Linked DNA regions of Homo sapiens. The protein of the gene in region 4 interacts with the protein of the main gene of each other region in a biochemical or structural test. Each region holds a gene or a part of one and is shown on either strand. Other genes may lie near its edges.

Evidence for each region.
Region 1: the proteins of APBA1 (region 4) and DOCK4 interact in a test that uses a peptide from one of them, tested with the Homo sapiens proteins (one large-scale study listed by IntAct).
Region 2: the proteins of APBA1 (region 4) and KCNT2 interact in a test that uses a peptide from one of them, tested with the Homo sapiens proteins (one large-scale study listed by IntAct).
Region 3: the proteins of APBA1 (region 4) and ABCA1 interact in a test that uses a peptide from one of them, tested with the Homo sapiens proteins (one large-scale study listed by IntAct).
Region 5: the proteins of APBA1 (region 4) and ADGRA3 interact in a test that uses a peptide from one of them, tested with the Homo sapiens proteins (one large-scale study listed by IntAct).
Region 6: the proteins of APBA1 (region 4) and GIPC2 interact in a test that uses a peptide from one of them, tested with the Homo sapiens proteins (one large-scale study listed by IntAct).
Region 7: the proteins of APBA1 (region 4) and SLC15A2 interact in a test that uses a peptide from one of them, tested with the Homo sapiens proteins (one large-scale study listed by IntAct).

Annotation. Positions count from the first base shown.
Region 1 is NC_000007.14:112,199,900-112,203,399, reverse strand, and holds part of DOCK4 (dedicator of cytokinesis protein 4), read left to right. Parts: intron 1-3,500. UniProt on the Homo sapiens protein: Functions as a guanine nucleotide exchange factor (GEF) that promotes the exchange of GDP to GTP, converting inactive GDP-bound small GTPases into their active GTP-bound form. Involved in regulation of adherens junction between cells.
Region 2 is NC_000001.11:196,230,941-196,234,440, forward strand, and holds part of KCNT2 (potassium channel subfamily T member 2), read right to left. Parts: intron 1-3,500. UniProt on the Homo sapiens protein: Sodium-activated and chloride-activated potassium channel. Produces rapidly activating outward rectifier K(+) currents. Contributes to regulate neuronal excitability.
Region 3 is NC_000009.12:104,925,356-104,929,309, reverse strand, and holds the start of ABCA1 (phospholipid-transporting ATPase ABCA1), read left to right. Parts: upstream 1-1,154; 5' UTR 1,155-1,375; intron 1,376-1,399; exon of another isoform or gene 1,400-2,521; intron 2,522-3,954. UniProt on the Homo sapiens protein: Catalyzes the translocation of specific phospholipids from the cytoplasmic to the extracellular/lumenal leaflet of membrane coupled to the hydrolysis of ATP.
Region 4 is NC_000009.12:69,445,372-69,448,871, reverse strand, and holds part of APBA1 (amyloid-beta A4 precursor protein-binding family A member 1), read left to right. Parts: intron 1-3,500. UniProt on the Homo sapiens protein: Putative function in synaptic vesicle exocytosis by binding to Munc18-1, an essential component of the synaptic vesicle exocytotic machinery. May modulate processing of the amyloid-beta precursor protein (APP) and hence formation of APP-beta.
Region 5 is NC_000004.12:22,411,567-22,415,066, reverse strand, and holds part of ADGRA3 (adhesion G protein-coupled receptor A3 precursor), read left to right. Parts: intron 1-1,252; coding exon 1,253-1,466; intron 1,467-1,676; coding exon 1,677-1,885; intron 1,886-3,500. UniProt on the Homo sapiens protein: Orphan receptor that may have a role in planar cell polarity pathway.
Region 6 is NC_000001.11:78,080,466-78,083,965, forward strand, and holds part of GIPC2 (PDZ domain-containing protein GIPC2), read left to right. Parts: intron 1-209; coding exon 210-395; intron 396-3,500.
Region 7 is NC_000003.12:121,925,401-121,928,900, forward strand, and holds part of SLC15A2 (solute carrier family 15 member 2), read left to right. Parts: intron 1-2,357; coding exon 2,358-2,439; intron 2,440-3,020; coding exon 3,021-3,155; intron 3,156-3,500. UniProt on the Homo sapiens protein: Proton-coupled amino-acid transporter that transports oligopeptides of 2 to 4 amino acids with a preference for dipeptides. Transports neutral and anionic dipeptides with a proton to peptide stoichiometry of 2:1 or 3:1.

The DNA.
Region 1 (3,500 bases), on a different chromosome or scaffold from region 4:
TTTTCGTAACTGATGTATAGGCACCGTCCCATTTAATGAATGATTAAATTCATTAAAACAACGAAAAGTCAGTCATAAGTGTTCTGATTTTAGGAAAAGGTATAGTGATGAAGTTATAGTTCTGAGGAACAGGGAACCTTGTCTTTTAGAAATCATGTTAAGAGGCACAGTGATAGGCAATTTCACCTTAGGAGATTCTAGTTAGCTCTTGATTCTGGGCTAGACACTGCTGCCAGCTGTGTAACCTTAGGTAAATCACTTAGCCTTTCTGGGTCCCAGCGTCTGGGGCAAGTGTTAACTAAAGCCTTCCCTGGTACTAATTTTGTAGAGCTCTTCCAACTAACTGTGTTCTTTGGTTAGAAAAACATCTTCATTGTGTTGAGACTGCTATGACAGAGACACTTTTGTTGTGACATATCTCACTTGGTTTTTAAGTAAGATCAGAGGTAAGCAAACGCTACCTGGCAAGCTGCCAGAACTGAGGTGCTGGTTCCTCTCTTTCTCAATTTGTTTGATTCTCTCTGGCTAGTAGGAGCTCCATGGGCAGTGACTGAAGCATTTTGTTTGTTTTTTAAATGTATTTTCCTTGACAAATAATAATAATATATTTTTTAAGTTTTCATTTTTTTTTTTTTAATTTAGAGACAGGGTTTTGCTCTGTTGCCCAGGCTGGAGTGCAGTGGCTATTCATAGGCGCCATCATAGTGCACTATAGCCTGTAGCCTCAAGCTCCTGGTTGATCGCCTCAAGCAATACTCCCACCTCAGCCTCCTGAGTAACTGGGATTACTGACATGCACCTTCTCACCCAGCTGTATATATTTATGGTGTACAGTGTGATATTTTGATGTACGTTTACAGTTGGAGTGATTAATCAGGCTATTAACAAATTACACCTCATATAATTACCATTTTTGTGGTGTAAAAAACATTTAAAATCCATTCTAGCACTTTTGAAGTATACAATGCATTGTTATTTATTGTATCTCCATTCTGTGGATATCACCTCCCATCTGTTAGAATGGCTGTATAAAAACAATGAAAGGTAACAAGTATTGGTGAGAGTGCAGAGAAAAGGGAACGCTGTGCACATGTTAGTGGGAATGTAAATTAATACAGCTGTTATGTAAAACAGCATGGAGGACCTTCAATGAACTAAAAATAGAATTACCATATGATCCAACAATTCCACTGCTTGGTATATATTCACAGGAATTGAAATCAGTATGCTGAAGAAATATCTGCTATCCCATGTTCATTGAAGCAGTTCTCAAAATGTCTGAGATATGAAAGCAACCTAAGTGTCCATCATCAGATGAATGGGTAAAGAGAATGTAGTATCTATACACAATGGAATATTATATAGTCTTGAAAAAGGGGAAAATCCTGTCATTTTCAGTAATGTGGAGGGTATTATAGTAAATGAAGTAAGTGTAAGTCTGGCACAGAAAGATAAGTACTGCATGATCTTGCTTACATGTGCAATCTAAAGAAGTTTACTTCATAAATATAGAGATTAAAGTGATGGTTGCCAGAGTCTGGGGGAAGAGGGTGGTTGGGGAAAGTGGAGATGATGATCAAAGTGTACAAAGTTTTGGTGAGACAGGGGGAACATGCTTTAGTGATCTATCGCACAGAATGGTGACTAAAGCATTCTTGATCGCATACTCACCAATTTCCTCAGATTACCTCTACCTCCTGCATGTCCTCATCTGTTAGCACACCCCCCCATTCCTCCCCCCTCCCCACCCCGCCTTAAAGTGGTGGGAATTATTCATGGAGAAAGCTAAGACCTTTGCAGATTGTTTTTGCGTTCATTTGTCCAACAGGCTTTTATGCACAGATTCACAGATGAGTCATGGCATCTTCCTGAGCTGAAGGCTGCACCCCTCAAACCTAGCCAGATGTTTTACATGTGTGAGCTTAGTTAAGCTTGACAGGAGAACACGGGCTGGATTGATCGGTGCAGAAAATCCATGAACCTTATAAGAAACAAAACTCAGAACAAGCTGATCTGAAGTCACAGTGTCATTTAAAAAATAAATTGTGTGGTGCGAGTATCACTCAGTCATCACATAAATTCCTGTATTCTATTTTTCTTGAAGGAGTTTTTGAACTCATCTGGGTAGGAATCATGTTCCTTTTTAAAGCCCCTTCTATGTTGGTGGAAGAAGATGCACCTTCTCGTATTCATACAGGATAGTTAGGTGTCTTTCTCCTTAGAAAGATGCTTTAATCATAGCGTATGTGTGTGATAGAGCGTAATAAGGATGTGTTTCCTTTACTCTTAGTTTTTTGTAGTTTCTTAGCTAACAGTTTCTTAAAGTGTTTTCTATTAGTGGTCCTATGATGTATCTACATAGCATGTAAAGCTAAATAATAATGTTCTGCTTGGAATTGTTTGTGACATTTAGAGCCTGACACAGGATTCTAAACTTTAAGTGGGAATAGAAGAGAAATGATTTATACCTCCCAGTAAAATACCACCGAAGGGCCATACAGACAGTGGGATAGCAGCTTATGTTCTTGATCTGGCCTCCTATGGGAATGGTCTATAAAAATGTTCCCCTCTTTTGGTCATTCCCCTAAGTGACAGTTCTTCACAAGGCCCCTGAAGCCACATAGAGATGCTGCTCTTCCTCTATGATCTTGTTTTTTTTTGTTTTTTTTTTTTTATTTTAGAGGCTGTTATGGTAGCTAGTACGAGGGAGATTATACAAATTTCAAGAAATTTAGGATTTCCTATCTCTAGCTCTATTCTTTTCCAAAAGGAGACAACATTTTCTGAGTTATGTTTGATACAATATGTCTATGTTTCTATCACAGTGACTTCATGCTGTGAATATATACATCAGAGGAACATTAAACTCTAATGAAACCCTTCTAAAAGGCTGTAACCGTAACACAGTAATACAATGTTTTACTTAAAAAGTGAAATTATTTTATCTGAGTCTACCCTTTGAAGTTGAATGGTAATTTCTATTTAAGAGATGAGAAAACAGTTTCATAGAGTTTAAGTGACTTACTCTAGATTAGTAGCTTTTAATCTTGTTTGACTATTACCCATAAGAAATATAGTTAATTTCCTGACCTAGTATATATATAAATATCCCCCAGTACCACCCCACACACATATAATTAAAACAGCACTTGCTTATACTCTATGTAATGTTCTATTCTTTTTTGTTAAAAAAAATACTTGTCACTAAATTGACTTGTTAATGGGTCCTGACCCACAGTTTGAAAAACACTGCTTTAAATGCTACATTTGTGATACCAGAAGGACTGCAACTCACATCTTACTGGGTTTCTGTGAAGTTCCTTTCATGACATTGGCAAGGAGTTGATGGTGGTGGTGGTTATTGTCTTTGATAGTCAGATATGTGGGTTTATTTTAACAAAGAATTTAATTATCCTTTTTTCCTTCAGTCTAAGTCAAAGTCTGTCTTCTGTAGTATTTCTTATTAAAGATGGAACAAATATTTAAAGCCATCACATGCA
Region 2 (3,500 bases), on a different chromosome or scaffold from region 4:
AATGCTATCAAAGGGTATTACATGCTACAGATAAATATTGCATGAAAGAAAGAGTCAATCAATGCAGCATACTACTTCATTGTTGTCTGATTTTAAGAAATTGCCACACCCCTCCAACCTTCAGTAACCACTACCCCAATCTGTCAGCAGCCATCAACATTGAGGCAAGACTCTCTACCGGCAAAAAAAGATTATGACTCCCTGAAGGCTCAGATGACTGCTAGCATTTTTTTTTTAGCAATAAACTGTTTTTTAATTAAGTAAATTTTTAGACATAATGCTTTGCTTTTGCACACTTAGTAGACTAAAGTATAATGCAAACATAAATTTTGTATGCACCGGGAAACCAAAAAATTCAAGTGACTGGCTTGATTGCAATATTCACTCTATTGTGGTAGTCTGGAACCAATCCTGCAAAATCTCTGAGGTATGCCTGAGTATCTTTAGTGACTGCTTCTTGAGCACCTGTAGGAAACTGTGCTAACACCTTAGAATTAAAACAAAATCACAAAACATGACTCCTGTCCGGCAGAAGATTAAAGTAAAATTTATGAAGCAGATATAATGGAAGAAAAAAAAAGAAATTCCAAACATCATACAAAGTGAAAAAGAACAACAGAGAGAATTAGGAACTGCTTTATTGTGGGGTTGGGTTGAACTTGCCTCTCCAGGCTTCAGAGAAGATTTAGGAGGAAGGAACAGGAGGTGATCCCAAATGTTGTCAATGGAGACCACAGAGGATGGATGTTTCTGATGTGCTTAGAAATGATTTGACTTTAGAAAACTAGTAAATCATGGTAGGTAAAGTCAAAAACAAAGGTAGGAAACAGGTAATGAATGACCTTAAGTTTCAGAATAAGTAGTTTCAATTTGTGTTTTAAAGGCAGTAGGAAGCCACTAAGGGTTTGAAAAGGAGAGAAGAAAATAAATATATGCAACACAGCATTCTAAGAAAGTCATGTTCCAAGTCCAAATGAAAGAAGTATTTAATACTTCTATAATATTTTTAAGAGGCAGTATATAAAATGAACAGGAAAACTAATTAAAAAGTGAGAACGCTAATAAAGTTTGCACTTTTGTCTTAAAGACTGAAGGGAAAAATTCACAAAATATACTCCTTAATGAAAATGAGAAAAGGCAATCAAAAACACTGAGTCTATTTTCTTTGACCAAATAAAAGTTGAGACTAGTGTTCTTGGACCTATTAACTGGATTTTGTCATCTATGCACACTGCTTTATAGTTACTTTAAATATCAATAGCATTGTGGATTGATGAAGAAAACTAATAGTGCACATTACACTTTTTAATACCATATCATCTAGTGATTTATTATTGTTCGCATCAAATTAATGTTGCTTCTTCATTTAAAACAAACTTCCGAAAGTGAATTTTTAGAAAAACATAAAAGATAACAGTATAATCCATTATTCTCTGCATTCATTGATGCAGTAGCAAAAGTTCCTTTTCCTATTATTGTCACTACAAAACCTATGAGTCCAATAAAGCAAATTTCTTAAACTGTGTTTTTATATATTACATGTCATGGTAGGCATCTTTCAAATGATAATTTATCATTGTTCTGGTTCCACTGAAATTTAATTATCTCAATGCCACAAATACAGATCACTGCAATGGTGTAAGAAAAGCTTTTTTATTTTTTTAATAGCAGTCAAGTTGATGTTTTAGCTTAAAACTAATAAAAAATAAGAGTATCTAAAAGACAGAAAATTCTCTAAAAATATGTCTACTTTACCTGTCCACATTGTGACATACATATTTTATTCATAAGTAAAAAGATTAAACATCATTTGAAATCAAGAACATAAATATTTGACAAAATGACATGTTCTTAGTCTCAAAAGGGTGACAACATTTTCTTTGAACATTCTGTCAAAAATAATTATGGGAAATGATTGTATTAAGCTTAAGAAACATAATTTATTATAAAATACAAATAAGGTAAGCATAATTTTTTAAATTCTATATAATTAACACAATTATATTTATTTGAAAAAAGGTATAAGAAGGCTGGAATTAATATGGGTAGATTAGATATTTAATAAAAATTATCTATACTTATGGACTTAAAAGAAAAAAGACATGTATAAATGTGGATGCCATGAAAAAAGAACAGCTTTATTTTATTATCATAATATACTATGTGAAGGGTCCAGGATGAGTAATTAAAATCCAAGTGCATCATAAATAAGATGTTTTCCTCTAATTGAAGTCCTTTATAAATTCAATATCACCATCAGATACAATTTTTGACAGTGACTTAAGAATTCTACTAGCTTAAATTGTTATTCATCTGTTTCCCCAATGCTCCTGTATTCTAACCAGTATTATCAGATGGCAAAATAAAGCAATATTATACTTGATAGTTCTATCTTAGGTGCATTTTAGGAATCTTTTCACACTTATTTGGGGTCAGATTTACTCCTGCTGTTTTATTTTCCTAATAAGTTTTTGAAATGCTTCCTGTTTCTGCCCTAAAACAAAACACTCGTCAGTAGTACAACACTAATTATTCTACTGTTTCTTCTGTATTTATATTTTTGGAAAAAACATTCCCTATTTAGCCTTTTTCAGCTGGAAGATAAAAAATATTTTTTCTACAGAAAACTAGCTTATCTTCAAAGTTCCAATACTGTGTATCTAAATGCTTTCTAGACATTTCCTCTTTATACTTTAAATAACATATTTGAATGGATGGATGAAGAAAATTTGTGGTATATATGCAAAGTAGAATACCATTCATCCATAAAAAAGATGAAATTCTGTCATTTGCAGCAACATAGTCAGTGTTAAATGAAATAAGCCACAGAAAAACAACATAGTCAGTGTTAAGAGAAATAAGCCACAGAAAAACAAATATCATGTTTTCATTCAAATGTGTGAGCTAAAATAATTGATCTCATGGAGATAGTAGGCAGAATGTTACCAGAGGCTGGGAAGGGTGATGAGGAGGGGAAGATGGAGAGAAACTGGTTTATTAGTAACCAAAATACAGTTACACAGAAGAAATAAATTCCAGTGCTTCAAAGCACAGTAGGGCAACTATGCTTAACAAGACTTCATTGTATATTTCAAAATAGCTGGAAAAGAACATTTGGGATATTCCTAACACAAAGAAATTATAAATGTTTGGGGTAATGGCTACCTCAATTACCCTGATTGATCATTACATATTTTATGCATGTATCAAAATATCACATGTACCTCATAAAATGCACAACTATTATATATCAATAAACTTAATTAATTAGAAAGTCAACATTTATTAAAAATACATATATACCTGGACCCACATATCATCTCTTTTTTTTTTACTACCCAACAGCCCCTCTTTCCTGCCTGGAAAATTGTCTCCCCATTCTGACTTGTTTTGATGAAACAACATTTTTTTTTTATTTTTGTAATCACACAGTTTGAAACCCTAAAGCTGTGTTAAACTTCTTTTTCAATTCCCAAATCAATAATCAAGTCTCATTTTCT
Region 3 (3,954 bases), about 35 Mb from region 4:
GTCCTGAGTCTTCTATGAATCTGCCCTTCAGGGCAGATTCATATTTAGACTCTTCACAGTTTGACCTGAGTTTTGGCCAGAATAAGGTGACATTTAGTTTGTTGGCTTGATGGATGACTTAAATATTTAGACATATGGTGTGTAGGCCTGCATTCCTACTCTTGCCTTTTTTTTTGCCCCTCCAGTGTTTTGGGTAGTTTTGCTCCCCTACAGCCAAAGGCAAACAGATAAGTTGGAGGTCTGGAGTGGCTACATAATTTTACACGACTGCAATTCTCTGGCTGCACTTCACAAATGTATACAAACTAAATACAAGTCCTGTGTTTTTATCACAGGGAGGCTGATCAATATAATGAAATTAAAAGGGGGCTGGTCCATATTGTTCTGTGTTTTTGTTTGTTTGTTTCTTTTTTTGTTTTTGTGGCCTCCTTCCTCTCAATTTATGAAGAGAAGCAGTAAGATGTTCCTCTCGGGTCCTCTGAGGGACCTGGGGAGCTCAGGCTGGGAATCTCCAAGGCAGTAGGTCGCCTATCAAAAATCAAAGTCCAGGTTTGTGGGGGGAAAACAAAAGCAGCCCATTACCCAGAGGACTGTCCGCCTTCCCCTCACCCCAGCCTAGGCCTTTGAAAGGAAACAAAAGACAAGACAAAATGATTGGCGTCCTGAGGGAGATTCAGCCTAGAGCTCTCTCTCCCCCAATCCCTCCCTCCGGCTGAGGAAACTAACAAAGGAAAAAAAAATTGCGGAAAGCAGGATTTAGAGGAAGCAAATTCCACTGGTGCCCTTGGCTGCCGGGAACGTGGACTAGAGAGTCTGCGGCGCAGCCCCGAGCCCAGCGCTTCCCGCGCGTCTTAGGCCGGCGGGCCCGGGCGGGGGAAGGGGACGCAGACCGCGGACCCTAAGACACCTGCTGTACCCTCCACCCCCACCCCACCCACCTCCCCCCAACTCCCTAGATGTGTCGTGGGCGGCTGAACGTCGCCCGTTTAAGGGGCGGGCCCCGGCTCCACGTGCTTTCTGCTGAGTGACTGAACTACATAAACAGAGGCCGGGAACGGGGCGGGGAGGAGGGAGAGCACAGGCTTTGACCGATAGTAACCTCTGCGCTCGGTGCAGCCGAATCTATAAAAGGAACTAGTCCCGGCAAAAACCCCGTAATTGCGAGCGAGAGTGAGTGGGGCCGGGACCCGCAGAGCCGAGCCGACCCTTCTCTCCCGGGCTGCGGCAGGGCAGGGCGGGGAGCTCCGCGCACCAACAGAGCCGGTTCTCAGGGCGCTTTGCTCCTTGTTTTTTCCCCGGTTCTGTTTTCTCCCCTTCTCCGGAAGGCTTGTCAAGGGGTAGGAGAAAGAGACGCAAACACAAAAGTGGAAAACAGGTAAGAGGCTCTCCAGTGACTTACTTGGGCGTTATTGTTTTGTTTCGAGGCCAAGGAGGCTTCGGGAAGTGCTCGGTTTCGGGGACTTTGATCCGGAGCCCCACATCCCCACCACTTGCAACTCAGATGGGACCGGAGGCGGTGTTAAATGGGGAGACGATGTCCTAGTACGAGCTCTGGTGACCCCAGGACTCTGCGCTGCTGCGCTTGGGGCTTGCCCGACGGTGGAGACCGGGGAGCATCTCTGGGCGTGGAGACCCGGGCGCAGTACCCCGGGCTCAGAGGGGTCGGGGGTTCCCGGGCGTGCTGAGGGCGCTGCTGCCGGGTGGGGAGAGCTGCAGGTCCGGCACCGAGCGCTGCTTTGTTCGGAGGGCCCTGAGCTGGCTAGAAACCCTTCTGGTTGCAGGTCGGCCAGTACCTACGGAGACAAATGCCAGCACTGAGTCTTCACTCGGTTCTTAAGAAGCTGGTCTGTTCTGACCTGGGAATTGGCTATATGCTCCCCGGGACTGGAGCGGCACAGTCCCGGACTGTGAATCCGGGAACTCGAGTTGGAGGTGTCCCAAACGGTCCGTGGTGCTATTGCTCACTAGAGGCCTTGGGTCTTTGTTTGACCTGAGGGGTAGGGAGGTCCTGCCTACAGTCTCCGTGCGCTCAGCTGAGCTGGTGTCCCTGGCGCAGAGCGCGGACGAGTTTTGTTTCCTTTTCTTTTTCTTTTTTTTCTTTCCTTTAAGTCTCGGTCTGTCGCCCAGGCTGGAGTGCAATGGAACGATCTCCGCTCACTGCAACCTCCGCCTCCCGGGTTCAAGCGATTCTCCTGCCTCAGCCTCCTGAGTAGCTGGGATTACAGGCGCGTCACCACATCCAGCTAATTTTTGTATTTTTAGTAGAGACGGGGTTTCAACTTGTTGGCCAGGCTGGTCTCGAACCCTCGACCTCAGGTGATCCACCGGCCTCGGCCTCCCCAAGTGCTGGGATTATAGGCGTGAGCCACCGCGCGCGGCCGAGTTTTGTTTCTTTTAAAAACAAGACTTAGGAGAGCCTGCGGAGACCCGGAGGTGGGGTGCCCAATCCTCCCTCTCCCACGTTCCCTGCAGCCCCATCTTCCAGACCGTTGCTGCTGGTCTCTCGGGGCAGCTTCTGCCTGGGCGCAGATGGGGAAGCTGGGCCGAGGTGGTGCCGTGGAATGACCGGGAGTAACCCCGGCGGGCGGCGCAGAACTCGGAGCTCCGCCGCGGGGCTGGGCTGGGCTCTGCCGTGAGGGTGGGGGTGCTGGGCGCGCGGGCTGCGGTGGCCCCCGGAGACTGGCCCGCAGCGCCTCCTGGCCGGAGGACCTAGGAATCGGCCGGCTCTACTAGGTGTCTTTGCTCGCGGTTCCGACTGTGAATCCGGTGAAGACCGGTGGTTGCAGACGGGGAGGAACTATGAGGTTGAGGCGAAAGCCCGTTTTGTTTTTTTTTTTTTGTTTTTTTGGTTTTTTTTTTTGTTAGCGTGTTTGCCAACTCCCAGGCCATTGGTAAAGCAGGAAGGTTCTTGGGGCGGCGGACGGTGCCAGGGTTATGTGTAGGTGCCTCTTTAGGTATATCTTTTATCAAAAAGAAGCAAAGAAATAAGATTAAAAATAAACAAAGAAAAAAGTTGTCTGGCACTGGCAGTAATTGGCCTGCCTTTGCAGCACTGATACCATTAGCTTTTAAAATCCGACTTTTCATTGACACTTCAAGAAGAGAATGGGTAGTATATACACATTCATCTCATAGTGGACAAATTTCATATTTAAAAAAACCTTCTGGGTACTGAAATCAGCAAGTCACTTGCCCTCCATGGCCGAATCCCTGCTTCCCACGAAGAGAACCTCACAAAAATTTCCCCCAAGTTAAAGAGTGGAATTTTCTTGATTTTTTTTTCTTTTTTTTTTAACGGCCGTAGTTTAGAACCCAGACTTAAATTATGATCTTCTTTTCAAACAAAACTTAAAGTCCTTAAGTTTTCATCTCCCCTTTTATTTCAACCTATTCTTCTCATACCTACCACAAAAATAATGGAGGCTTTCTGTTGAGAAACTTTCCGTTTCTGTTGAGAGTATCATTCTCTTGAGAAACTTTCTCCTAAATCAGAGAAAGTATGGAAGCATGGAAAGTATTCCTGAGTAGAACCTCTACAGATATTACAATATTTTTCAAATACAAAGTTTCCATTGTCAGCCTGTTTCCCAAGTGCTTCCACAAACCATTAAATAATTCCACAAACCATTAAAATAATTAATGCTAGGGAATTTTAGGAAAACATTGGTTTACAATCAGAAGGACCGGGGAAGTGGGTCTTCAGCCTTCACGATGACTACAAGCCATTTAAGGGACTAGAATTGCTACTGTTGTCAGAGCAATTTAGGAGTCTGTATTTGAGCACCCGCATAGTGTTCCAGAATGACATATCTGACTGTAACCTGGACACGTGTGATATGTTGTCTCCCCTGCAGATGAGCATTTGAAATCTCAACCCTCGTATTTCTACGAGTGCAGGCCTATAATGGACCCTGGGCACATTTTTTTTTTTTTTGAGATGCAGTCTCGCTCTGT
Region 4 (3,500 bases):
TTGCTGAATGCATGGCCAGTGTGACCAGGATGTTCCTCCTCCATGATGGCATCTGTAGACCCCAGTAGCTCTGCACCAAGTGCTGCGGTACTGTAGCTAGACTGAGATTCCACAGCGTTTTTTGGGGTCCTGTAGGGGTTTCCTGAAAGACTTAGCTGGAACATAGCTGTGTGCGTATGTGCATGTGTGAGAGAGAGGGAGAAGGAAGGGGATTAATTCGTGCAAATAGTCATTGTGAGCAAAAGAAAAATCACAAAGCCAGCCTCCTCAGCTAAGGGGGTGGGGGTGGGAGGTGAAGGTGAGTGTATAGGACACATGGATGGTGACTTTTTGTTTTTAATGAAATGGAGTAAATTCTAATTTCACATAAGATAATCACATCTGGAAAGAAATAGTCCTCTTTGGCCTCCTTTAATTTCTTTTTCTTATATCTTATACTTAAATAAATTCTACCTCTTGCTTAATACACGTTAAAGGTAAGATTAGAGAATCAACTTTGAACATGGATATTCATTCAGAAAGGTTTAATTGGGCCTCTGTGAGGCACTGAGCTGCGCTCTGAGGAAGCTGGCTTGCCAGTGTGCATGTGCAGGATAATTAGAGACGTGCAAGGGCTCTGCGGCCAACATAAAGGTGAGAGGCTACAAGTGATTAGATGGACAATTTTATGTGATTTTAAAGTTGACCTTGAAGGAATAAAACCTAGGTAGGTAGCAGAAAGGGAAGTGGCGTTTGGAAGTTTCTGCTTGAATTGATGGACAGGGGCCGGTGTTGAGTCAGGGAGAGATGGGGTCTGAGCCTGGCCCGGAACGGCTGGTCTGGTGTTGCTGTGATTGCATGGAGAGGCAAGCGGGGGGGTGGGGCTAGGGAGGCAGGACCACAAGTCGCTCCTGCCAGTGAGCAAGTTGCTTATTAAACACCTTGGGTGCATGCATGAGAACTGCTGAGGGGCTGTGGGACCCAGGGGCCCCGTGGACACAGTCCCTGCCCCCCAGGGAGCTTGGTCGGTTTGAGGAGAAGTGAAAGGACTTATGGCTCACAGTGCTCAGTGCTGTGTGTCTGTGCTCTGGATGCTCTGAGAATATGTGTGGACTGACTTGCTGAGCCTTCGGGGCAGCATTCTGTGGGCAGGTACTATTTTGTACCCATTGTACAAGCTAGGAAGCTGAGGCACAGCAAGATGATGTAATCGTCTGTGGTCATACAGCCTCCAATACAGAGTCATCCCAGGGAGGGTGTCAGGTGAAATGCTAGGCCCAAGGCCAGACCATGGGGCAGTACTTCTCAGCCAGGGGTGATCTTCATCCCCCAAAATGTATGGAGACTGTTTGGGTTGTCACGGAGGAGAAGGTGCTGCCAGCATCCAGTGGGTAGAGGCCAGGGATACTGTCAAACATCCTACAATGCACAGGACAGCCCCACAGCACAGAGTTATCCAGCCCCAAATGTAGGTAGTGCTGAGGTTGAGAAACTGCCTGAGCGGCATAGGAGTTCAGATGCAAGAGAGAGAAATCGATGAGAGAGGGAAGCTGGTTAGGGATGGTTTGTGGGGAGTTGGTCTGAGTCTAGAAGGGTTGGGGAGGAGGAGCGGGGATAGGGGGTTAAGTAAAGTATTGAGTAATATTTGTGTTCCCTCCAAATACATATTGAAACCCTAATCCCAATGTGATGTTATTTGGAGGTGGAGCCTTTAGGAAGTGATTAGCAGGAGGGTGGAGCCCTCATGGTTGGGATTAGTGCCCTTAAAAAAGGGACCCCAGCAAGCTCTCTTTTGGTATGTGAAGATGCTAGAAGTTGGCCATCTGCAACTCAGAAGGGGCTCTTGCCAGAACCTGACAGTGCTGGTACGCTGAGCTCAGACTTCCAGCCTCCAGAACTGTGAGGGATAAATGCCTGTTGTTTATAAGCCACCTAGTCTGTGGTACTTTGTCATGGCAGACTAAGAACAGACTCAGACAAGGGGAGGACTTAAGTAAAGGTGGGGATGGGGCCTGGGCAGGAACAAGCCGCGCTTCCTGAGGCCCTTAAGACTCCAGCTCATGGCCTGGAGTCACCTCCTTTCCTCCTCAGGACAGCCCACAAGGGGGACAGCAGATGCTAGGTGCACAGATGGGCCATCAGAGACTCTAAAGGCACAGGAGACTTGCCCAGGGCCCCCAGCTGGCCAGTGAGTCCCCACCCTCCTGCGAATCGCTCCTTCCTTATCTGCGTGGGGACCAGAGGAGGGAAGCAGTGAGGCTATGAGGGCAGCCTGACTCCCTCTGCAGCTGCCACAGCATCAAGGTGGAAGCAAAGCTTGCTGGAGTACAGACGGAGCTCTGTCTGCACAGTTTCCTAAGGGGAAATGGATTGTTTGAGGAGCTGAACTTTGATGTCTATAAATGTAATCTCTATAGAACCAGAAAATTAAAAGGCCGAGTGGTGATAAAAGAGATGTAACTGATGAAGATGAAGAGTAAGAAAAGAAAAGCAGTGCTTTCGTGGCCACCCATAGTGAAGAAGTACTTAGCAGGGCAGACCCCGATTAGAGCACAGCTGAACTTCCTCCCTGCCACAGTGCGCCGCTTGTTGAATGGGGAAATGTGATGGTCCGTCCGTGGACCACCCTGGCTGGTGGGAGGTGTAACCACTGATAACAGCCAGAATCACCAGTACCAAATACAGACTGACATCAGTGGGTCGTATCACCTTTTTAAAATTCTCTAGAAAACACACCCCTTTTTGCCTGCACCTGGACAGATGTGCACACTGCCCTACCCCCACCCCTCGGGCCACTGCAGAGCAGCATCTGGACCACTTCAAGGCTGTGTTCAAATTTGTTTCAGTGTATGTCCATGCTCTTTGCAGTGACTTTGACAAGCAACTCTCATCCTGATGAATCAGTGCTTCTCAAACTGATTGGAATCACCTGGGGATCTTGTTAGAATGCAGGTCTGATTCAGCAGGTATAGGGTGGAATTCTGCATTTTTGGCAGGCTTTGCGGCGGGGATGGCATCACCAGTCTGCAGGCTACACTTTCAGGAACAGGGATCCAAAGTGTGCATTCTGCATCTGGCCACTTCAATACTGGTTGACTATTGTCCCCCCAGGTTACAGGAAATCAATTTCTAGAGTAGAATTATAGGTATTGACTTGCCTTACTCTTCCTACCTTATTTTTTGGGTCATAATTAATTCCCAAGGCATAATTATTGGTGGGTGGAACATTTTACAGGCTGCCTCTTTCTGTGCCTTTGCCTCTGTGGTCCTGCCCTCTGGGTTTTTGCTCTGTTTTAGAATAGCGCACAGCTTCCCTTGCTTCCCCAGGAGCATCATGGTTCTGCTCTCCCGTTGCTATAGAGACCATTCTGGCTTCTCTTTTCTCTCTTCGCCCCTCTTCTCTGGGCTTCCCCTCCCACCAGATTTCTTAATTTGCTGTACCGTTCCACTGTTGTCATGGGGACCAAATGACCCTTTATTTAATTGGCACCTCCAATAAAATGGCAGCTCAGAAATCCAAG
Region 5 (3,500 bases), on a different chromosome or scaffold from region 4:
TATGACTAATGTGTGCAGAGTGTTGTGTGAGTCCAGAAGAGGAAGCAGCTAATCTGAAGATGCAATATACTGAGGAGATGCAATTAACTGTCCAAAAAAGCCCTGTTTCAAGGACTCTGTATAAAGTCTTCCCCCTGGCTGCCAACGTTTTTCATTCTAATCCACTTTCCGTTACACCAATTCAAAAGTTTGTGAGATGAAAGAATAGTGGAGCATTTCAGGTAGAGATGCTGGTCTGTGCAGTGAGCATGGTGGCATAAAAAGAATATAGGAGAACTTAAATTGATAACTCAGTGTAGCTGTGTTTTAGGTTGTGCTATAGGAGCATTCAGGGGATACATCTGAGCAATAGATTTTCATCAAATTATATGGTGAACTTAGGATTTGGGCTTAGTATTAAACATTGCAAAACCAAGGTGTTATTTAAACTGGAATAACATGATTCGATTTGTTTCTTAAGGGGAAATTCCGGTGAATATGGAATTAGAAGAAGAGAGGTTAGAAGCCAAGAAAAAGATTGTACAATAAATTCTTCAACTATGGAATGTTTTTAGATGGTTAATTGTTCACTTCTTTGGTATATATATATTTTTTACTGAATGCTGAATAATTTGTTATTTAAAAATCCTCAATAAAGAAATCTGAAAAAATTCAGTGATCAGTCAGCATTTTCAGTTGTTCCTATGTGTTATTATTTTTTTTTTCTAAATGTGTTTCCTAGTCTCAAGGAAATTTCTGCTAAGTGTACTGAATCTAAACCTCTATTATGTTTGTATAATTTCATTCTTTTGTTGTGTGGAGGTTTGAATTCATCATAAATCACCTTAAAGTTCCATAAGCCCAAATTAATTATACTCATATTTATGATATGCTACATTTGTGCTTCTTTATCATATTTTATCATTGTAAAATTGATACAGCCTGATCATTGAGATCCTTGATCTGTTTAATGCTATCTACTTCAACATATAATATCATGGGAAAATTAACTTTGTTAATTTGAAACACTTTTCTTGTTTACTTATTTAACTCTTTAAAGTTTGCATTTCTGTTTTATACTTCTTTTAATCTATGTTATGTGGTGTTGACATTTCGCTTGACTGATGATTTTTTTAACTGTTAAATTTTGTATATCCAATTTAAAAAATGAAGTCAACCTAATTATACCACTTTTGTAACTATCTGACATATTTTTTTCTGGTTTCTATGTACTAATGTAGTGAGCTTTTTTTATGTATATATATTTTTTCAGAATACTATTGTGGAGGCTTCTATTCAGCTTCCTCCTTCCCTTTTCTCACCAAAGCAAAAAAGAGAACTCAGACCAACTGATGACTCTCTTTACAAGCTTCAACTCATTGCATTCCGCAATGGAAAGCTTTTTCCAGCCACTGGAAATTCAACAAATTTGGCTGATGATGGAAAACGACGTACTGTGGTTACCCCTGTGATTCTCACCAAAATAGGTTTGTATGTGGCATATGTTATCCTGTAGTCAGTGGACAATAAGGCCTTGTAGTTGACTGTTCCTAAAAATGCTTATTTTAGTGTTTTCTCGTTTTAATGAGTCACTAGTGAAGAAAGATCTTGCAGAGTACCCATTACTGTAGAAGTTGACATTTATAATTGGTTATGAAGTTTGTTTCAGAAATATTTTTATTTCCCATTTTCTCCAGATGGTGTGAATGTAGATACCCACCACATCCCTGTTAATGTGACACTGCGTCGAATTGCACATGGAGCAGATGCTGTTGCAGCCCGGTGGGATTTCGATTTGCTGAACGGACAAGGAGGCTGGAAGTCAGATGGGTGCCATATACTCTATTCAGATGAAAATATCACTACGATTCAGTGCTACTCCCTTAGTAACTATGCAGTTTTAATGGTATGGCAGTTGTTAACTTTATGCATAAACACTATTCTACATTTTTGCTATGCATAATTAAGCTCAAATGAAGTGTTTTTTTGTTTTTTGTTTTTTTTTTTTTTTTACTTTTAACATAATTTGCTCCCTTTGATTATATGAGATGATATGTGTTCTAATTTTGATTTTAAAGGGAAATTAAGTTACTACCAAGTGAAATGTATGGGATTGAGTTTGGTATATAGGAATTTTAAATCAACTTTATAAGTCAATCAGTTCAGTTAGTCTTTGACCTTAAAACTTGGAGAGACTGTTGATGCAGATTCCCTCTGCCCAGAAAGAGTGATTTCATTTGCCGAAGGATACACAGTGAGTAGTGAAAGAACATTTTCCTACTTTGCAATCTAGCGCTGTTTCCCACTACATGTCGTAATTGTTAGACTCTATTTAAATTTAGAATTAATCATGATAATTTCATTTTTGTCATTGCAAGTGACAGTATTGACACAAAGAATGTCTTTTCAGTTTTAATGCCAGTCTAGTGTTGTTTTCTGTTATTTGCCGTTGTTAACACTAATTACAGGTTGAGTCTTATCTCTTATCTGAGATGCTTGGGACTAAAAATGTTTTGGATTTTGGATTTTTTCAGATTTTGGAATATTTGCATTATCACTTACCAGTTCATCATTCCTAATCCAAAAATCTGAAATCCTCCAAGGAGCATTTTCTTTGAAAAGTTTTAGATTTTGGAGCATTTTGGATTTAGGATTCTTGGGTTAGGGATACTCAACCTGTAATTTTTGGGGGGTAAAATAACAGTTATTAATGTACAGGAGCAAGTGTTTTTATTAATGAGGTCTTTAAGTGAATCTGACGTCTGAGCAGATAATTATGAAATAAACCATGCTAGTTCTTATTTTATATTGTAATTATTATAAATACTGACATCAAGGAGTATATTTAGAGTACGGTGGAAGGAATTACTGACGAGTGTGAAAGACATTTCCCAGAAATGGTTTGAGGTTACTCTGGGTGTGAGGAACTTCTATGTTATTTCTGATTCCAGCTGTAAATCTGTTTTCTAGAAAATGTTTTATCAAAGTGCTAAATACCTTGAAACATGATATATTTTACATTTCATGAATTTTTCTTTTCTTAAAAAAATAGCATTTAGCACTAGAAATGATCTTGAAGTAAACCTGAATTATAAATAATTTTCTTTGACTCTTGTATGTTTTTTTTTGTTGTTGTTGTTGTTTCAATTCAACTTATACCTTACCTGGTACACAGGTCAAGCAAGCAGAAAGGTGAATAGATTATTTATCAGAGTAAAGGGATTATCTTTTCATTGACATAATTGAGCATTTTATACAAGTGCAAGCAACATATTTAAACATGTATGTTTATAGACTCGGCTATATTTGTATATTTGTATATATAAAGGACCTTTATTCAATTGGGATTAACTTTAGTGTTGACAGTTTATGATTCTGATTCTCTTTGTAAATGGAAGATGTCTTGATTTCTGTAAGCATGAGTCTGGTTTCTATAAGTTCACATTTTATTATTGTGTAGTCAACTTATATTTATTTTTTGTTTTTTTGAGACAGAGTCTCACTCAGGTTGCCCAGGCTGG
Region 6 (3,500 bases), on a different chromosome or scaffold from region 4:
CTACAGGAAACCCTCAATACATGTTACCTAATGCTACTGTCTGAAAATGTGTCCCAGAATCTCTCTAGCCAACATAAAAACACATTTTATGATGTAACTCTTTACATCATAAATTGAGGAGTATTTCAGTCAATAAATGTTTATAAATAAATTAACGGTCAGATGTATTCCAAGTGGAAATGGACCTGACATTTTATTTTTCTTTGCAGATCTTATATTGCACTTTAAACACACCTAAAATTGACATGGAAAGACTCTTAGGAGGACAACTAGGACTAGAAGATTTCATATTTGCCCATGTGAAAGGAATCGAAAAAGAAGTGAATGTGTATAAATCTGAGGATTCACTTGGTCTCACCATTACAGATAATGGTGTTGGCTATGCTTTTATAAAGGTAAGTTTTAAAAAATAACAGTGTAACCTAATTGAGGATAACATTTAAGAAAATCTACCAGGCCAAAGAAAGTTAGAAATGATCTTCAGAGTGAGAGCCCGCTCAGCAAGGATGCATGAATTGGTAATGTTTCACTTTCATTTTAAAAATGTTCAGATGTCAGTTTGTGTTTACTATTTTCTTAATTTCTTCCCTTTAGTTTAAACTTCCCCTAGAATTTAGAACTAACTGAAAGGAAAGTCTAACCCTGGTGCCTACTCATTATCCATATAAGCTTTTCCATGTCTGTAGGTTTTAACATCTGATGAATTTCTGGCTTATTTCCATTGAATTAGTGTTATTTTCCAACTGTTCCTAGTTTTGACTGCCTTATTTACTTCTTTAAAAATGCCCTTCAAAATTTTAGGAAGTATATAAAGTTGGATCTCTGTATCTGTAGGTTCTGTATTAGTGGATTCAACCAACCACAGATTAAAGGTAGTTGAAAAAATGGCATCTGTACTGAACATGTATGGCCTTTTTACTTGTCATTATTTCCTAAACAATACAGTACAACTGCTTATGTAGCATTGCCATTGTGTTAGGTATTATAATCTAGAGATGATTTAAAGTATATAGAAGGATGTGGATAGGTTATATGCAAATACTACACCATTTTATACCAGGGACTTGAACATCAGTGGAATTTTAGTATTGATGGTGTGTCCTGGAACCAATCCCCCATGGATACCCAGGGCCAACTGTAATTCCTTTATTCAAATACAAAGAGAGCGATATAGAGCTTCAAAGGCAAGATAAAAGTTTGAAATGGTGTGAAACTAAGAACTGAGGAGAAAGGTAGTCTCATCTCTTAAAAATAACAACTCTATTATTGTAATAGTTATAATAGTAACAGACTTATATTGAATGCATGTACTAGGCACTTTGCATACAATTTCTCACTTAATTCTCACAATTCTATTTGGTTGGTATTATGTTTTTTCTTTGTATTTATTTTTTTGTTGCAGTATAAGACATTTTTAATGTACAGCTTAATGAATGTTTACATACTTATCCCTGTTTAACCATCACCCAGATCAGGATAAATTGCATTTCTGCCACTCAGAAGGCTCATTTGTGCCCCTTCCCAGTCAATAATCTTTCCCCGCAAAGTAGCCATTATTCTGGCATCTATTGCCATGAACTTCATATAATCATATATTATATACTCCACTATTTTCGGCTTCTTTTGCTCAAAAAGATGCCTATGAGATCCATGGATAGGTACTATTTCCAACCTTATTTTACAGATGTGGAAACAGGCTCAGGAAGGTTAAGTAGCTTGCCCAAAGTTATACAGCTGGACACATTCAGGATTTGGATCTATGAGGTCTGACTTCAGAGCTGGCACTTCTATTCACTCGATTAAGAATTAATGATAGATTTCATGCAACAGGGAATATTTTGTGCCTTTATTTTGTCCAAATCTTGATTTGCTGATGCATTGTCACCATTAAATAATCTTAGGGAAGTTATCTTCTTAACTGTAAATGGGACTTTCGCTACCCACTTGATAGAATGGCTATTTTTAGCTCTGCAAAAGATATGACTGTGCTGAAGGTTGAGTGAGTGACCAAATGGAAAATCTGTGACTGGGAAAGTCATATGGGATTATCCAAGGGAAGCTCAGGACATGAGGCACAGGCAGCAGAGAAGGGCTTGGAAGTTTCACAAACGTGTGTGGATTTTTAAAATCTTAGCCTCTGACATTCAGAGCTTGTCTTTCTATTTTTTAAAAAATGCTTTGTCAAACATGTGCCTGACTCAGAGTACTAGTCACTAGCCCTGTGGAGATATAGGGCATGTTAGCAAAGGAGAAAGCAAGGCATAATCTAAACTGCCAACATATAGTTCAACTTAGAAGAGAGATGCACATTATACTGTATACATGGTTGATGAAATTTTTTAAAAATTGGGAGAGGATAATTTCAAACTTACATAAAGATTGCAATAATAATACAAAGAACTCCCATAAATCATTTATCCAAATCTCCAATTTTTACCATTTGCCATGTTTGAGTTTTTTGTTCTGTCTCATACACACACATATATATATATATACTCTTTACCCCTTAGTACTTCAGAGTGTAATTACTAAGAACAAGGATATTCTCTTACATATAACTACAGTACAATTATGAAATTCATACAGTCTAATATTGATATAATACTTTTAAACTAATCTATAGTTCACATTGTAGTCTTATCAGCGTCCTAATTGTGTTCATTATTTTCCCCTCATACAGGTCCAATTTAGGATCCTGTATTTCATTTATGTCTTTTTAGTCTTCTTTATAATCTAGAATAGTTGTCATGTCTTTTTAGTCTTCCTTAATCTAGAATAGTTCCTCAGCCTTTTATAGGATGTCCCTGAATTTGGGTTTTTCTGATGTTTCCTCATGTTGATAAATAGATTGTGCATTTTTGGTAGGAAAATTACATAAGTGATGCTGTGTCCTTCTCAGTGCACCACATCAGAAGGTACATGAAACTGGTTTGTCTCATTGTTTGTGAGATTAACTTTTGTCACTTGTCTGAGGTAGTGTCCACTAGTCTTTTTCACTACAAAATTATTTTCCTTTGTGATACGTAATTGTGGAGAGATGCTTTGATATCATGAAAATACCCTGTTTTCTTACTTGCATGGCACAAATTTAGTATCTGTTGATGAGTCTTACCTGAATTAATTTTTCCTATAATGGTTGAAAAAATGATGATTTTTCTAATTCCATCACTCCTTATATGTTTCTCTGAAAGCATTTTATGGTAGGGAAAAAGCTGCCCTTATTTATTGTCAACATGGGTACATGACTTCGTGTTTTACTGAATGGTTTATAGTCTGTTACTATCAATTATATTGATGCTCAAATTTCCTGAGACTTGGCCTGCAGGAACCCCTGTAAGTGGGCCCCCATGTCCTTTTGACATGGCTCCTATCATTTTATTGAGTAGGTTCTTACTTTCTAGAACACAACAAGATATTCTAGACCCATCTTGTATCTCCTTTTCCCCTGACCTAGAATCAACTATTTCTCTCAGAAGCTCTGATTTTTACTAGAGATTGAT
Region 7 (3,500 bases), on a different chromosome or scaffold from region 4:
TCTCCTGTTGTCCCTACAAAACAAATGGGGAACCTAGTAGGACTGGGGACTGAATTATTCCCAATTACTGCCTGAAATTTTTTCTAAATAGAAGGACTAGTCTTTTTTAGAGTTTGGCAAAAGAAAGTTTCAAGCCTTCTTTCATTCTTGATTTAATAGCAATTTCATTGTGATGACCACTTTACCAGATGAAAATGGCCCTTTGTCATTTGTTCATTGAGCAAATGTTGGGAAGTTTAGGACCAAGTGTCATGAAAATATAAATCAAGCAAAAAAAAAAACAACATTTCCCTCAAACAGTTTATTACTTAGTAAAGGGGCTAGACTATATATATATATATATATATATATATATATATATATATATATATATATATATATAAAATACAACTACTACACAGGTAAAATAAGTGTCCTAAGAAGGGAAGATCAAGTGCCAAGGAGAGGTAGAAAAGAAAAAGTCCCTCCCCTGCCAAAGCCAACAGATTTCTGCAGAGGAATGTGAGGTAAAGCATGTACAGCACTTGGCATATGGCATTTGTTCAATAAACCTGATTGTATTGCCATTATTTTTGGTGTTATGACATAGCGAATAGAAAAACCATCATAAGCAAAGATGGAGGTGGGTAAATGTGGTGTATCACAGAGAAGAGCAGTTCAATGTGACTCAAGAACAAGAAGAAAGAAGAATGTATGAAGGGGAGTTCTAGGAAATCCCTTGAAAAGTAATTGGTCATGGAAACATGGATTTAAAAAAGGAAAGTAATTGGGATCAAATCAGGAAAAGTCTTTGATGCAGTTTGAATATTTGTACCCACTCAAATCTCATGTTGAAATGTAATCCCCAATGTTGGATGTTGGAGGTGGGGTCTGGTGGGAGGTAGTCGGATCATGGGGATGAATTCCTCATAAATGGTTTAGTGCTATCCCGTTGGTGCTGTCCTTATGATAGTGAGTTCTAGTGGGATCTGACCATTTAAAAGCATGTAGTATCTCCCTACCCTTCACTTGCTCCTGCTTTCACCATGTGACATGTCTGTTTCTCCAGAGGGTACAAGCCATAAACCTTGGTGGCTTCTACATGGTGTTAAGCCTGCAGGCATACAGAGTGCAAGAATGAAGAATGCTTGGCACCCTTCACCTAGATTTCAGAGGCTGTATGAGAAAGTGTGGGTGTTCATGCAGAAACCGGCTGCAGGGGTGGAGCCCCCAGAGAGTACCTCTACTAGGGCAGTGTGGAGGTAAAATGTGGGGTTGGAGCTCCCACACAGAGTCCCCACAAGGACACTGCCTAGTGCAGCTGTGAGAAGGGGGCCACCATCCTCCAGACCCCAGAATGATAGACCCACTGGCAGCTTGCACCCTGGGCCTGGAAAACCACGGGCACTCAACAACCTGTGAGAGCAGCCACAGGGGCTGAACTCTGCAAAGCCACAAGGGTGGAGCTATCCAAGTCCTTGGGAGCCCACCCCTTGTATTGGTGTGCCCTGAATGTGGGACATGGAGTCAAAGGAGATTATTCTGGAACTTTAAGATTTAATAACTGCCCTGCTGTGTTTCAGACTTGCCTGGGGCCTGTAGCCCATTTGTTTTGGCCAGTTTCTCCCTTTTGGAATGGGAATGTTTACCCAGTATCTATACCCCCATTTTATTTGGGGAGTCAATAAGTTGTTTTGATTTTATAGGCTCATGGGTGGAAGGGACTTGCCTTATTTCAAATGAGACTTTGGACTTGGAACTTTTGATTGAGTTTGTGCTGGAATGAGTTAAAATTTGGGGAACTATTGGGAAGATATAATTGTATTTTGCAATGTGAGAAGGACATGAGATTTTTGGGGGGCTAGAGATGGAATGATATGGTTTGAATATTTGTCCCTGCCAAAATCTCATGTTGAAATGTAATTCCCAGTGATAAAGGTGGGGCCTGGTGGGACATGACTGGATCATGGGAGTGAATTCTCATGAAGGGTTTAGCACCATTCTGTGGTGCTATCTTCATGATAGTGAATGAGTTCTCACAAGATCTGGTCATTTAAAAGTGTGTGGCACCTCCCATCTCCTCGCTTGCTTCTGCTTTCACCATGTGACATGCCTATTCCACCTTTGGCTTCTCCCATGATTGAAAGCTCCTCGATGCTTCACCAGAAGCTGGAAGATGCCAGCACTGTGCTTCCTGTAAAGCTACAGAACCATAAGCCAATTAAACTTCTTTTCTTTATAAATTACCCAGTCTCAGGTATTTCTTTACAGCAATGCAAGAACAGTCTAATGCAGTCTTTAATAATAGGCTACAGAGTTTGGATTTCATCCTTTAGAGTCTAAAGTTTAGATATAATTGTTTCTCCTTTCCACCACAGATCACTTAGGAAAATGGCTGTTGGTATGATCCTAGCATGCCTGGCATTTGCAGTTGCGGCAGCTGTAGAGATAAAAATAAATGTGAGTTCAGTAATTCTTAAGCTCTATGAGGGCAGGATCATATCTTTCTTATTTGCTCTTTTGACTTGTTCAGTCATGATTCCCTGGGACCTAGCACAGTACCTGTTTTATAAGAGGTGCATCATAAGTATTTGTGATAAATAAGTAGATACAGGGGTAAAACAGCAATGCAAAATGAGGCCCACCTCCCACCTGAGTGACTCAGAATGTATTTTCAGGGAATTCTCAAACACTAATATCCAAGAGAGCCCTCTCCTTAGGGAACACAGGCTTATGTGATGCCTTTCTACATACTCAAGTAAAAACCTTTTGGCAGATTGAATAGCCACTATTACGGATGAGGCCACAGCTGAGTCAAAAAGCATCGAGTTTGTAAGCTGGCATTGGTACTTGCTACAATGAGCTGATGTTTCCCTCTCCAAGCTGCCTTTAGAGTTTTCTAAGCCAAATATTTTTCAGAGGGAGAAAACTATGTCTACTTGGCTAGTGGACTAGGCTGTCAGAAACAACTGAGATATGTGTTGCCATTGTATCTGAAGGATTATTTGTTGGTGATTCTGACATGTGTTCTTTGCTCTAAGGAAATGGCCCCAGCCCAGCCAGGTCCCCAGGAGGTTTTCCTACAAGTCTTGAATCTGGCAGATGATGAGGTGAAGGTGACAGTGGTGGGAAATGAAAACAATTCTCTGTTGATAGAGTCCATCAAATCCTTTCAGGTGAGGTGTGTACCTGAATGAATTAGAAACTCTGTATGCTATATTGATCTTGATTTTTCCTTAACATTAATTGTATCATAAGCATCTTCCCATGTCTTTAGATAATCTTTGAGCACATGATTTTAATGGGCATATAATATTCCATTCTATAGATATACCATAGTTTATTTAGACATTTCCACATAGGTATTCCGTTTTTATTATTATACATAATCCTACAATGAACATTCTTATTCATAAATATTTATGCATGGCTCTGATTATTTCTTAGGGTAAATTCCAAGAAATAAAATGGCTAGGTTAAAGAAAGGAATTACTAGGTTGAAAGTGTCTGATGAGGTCACC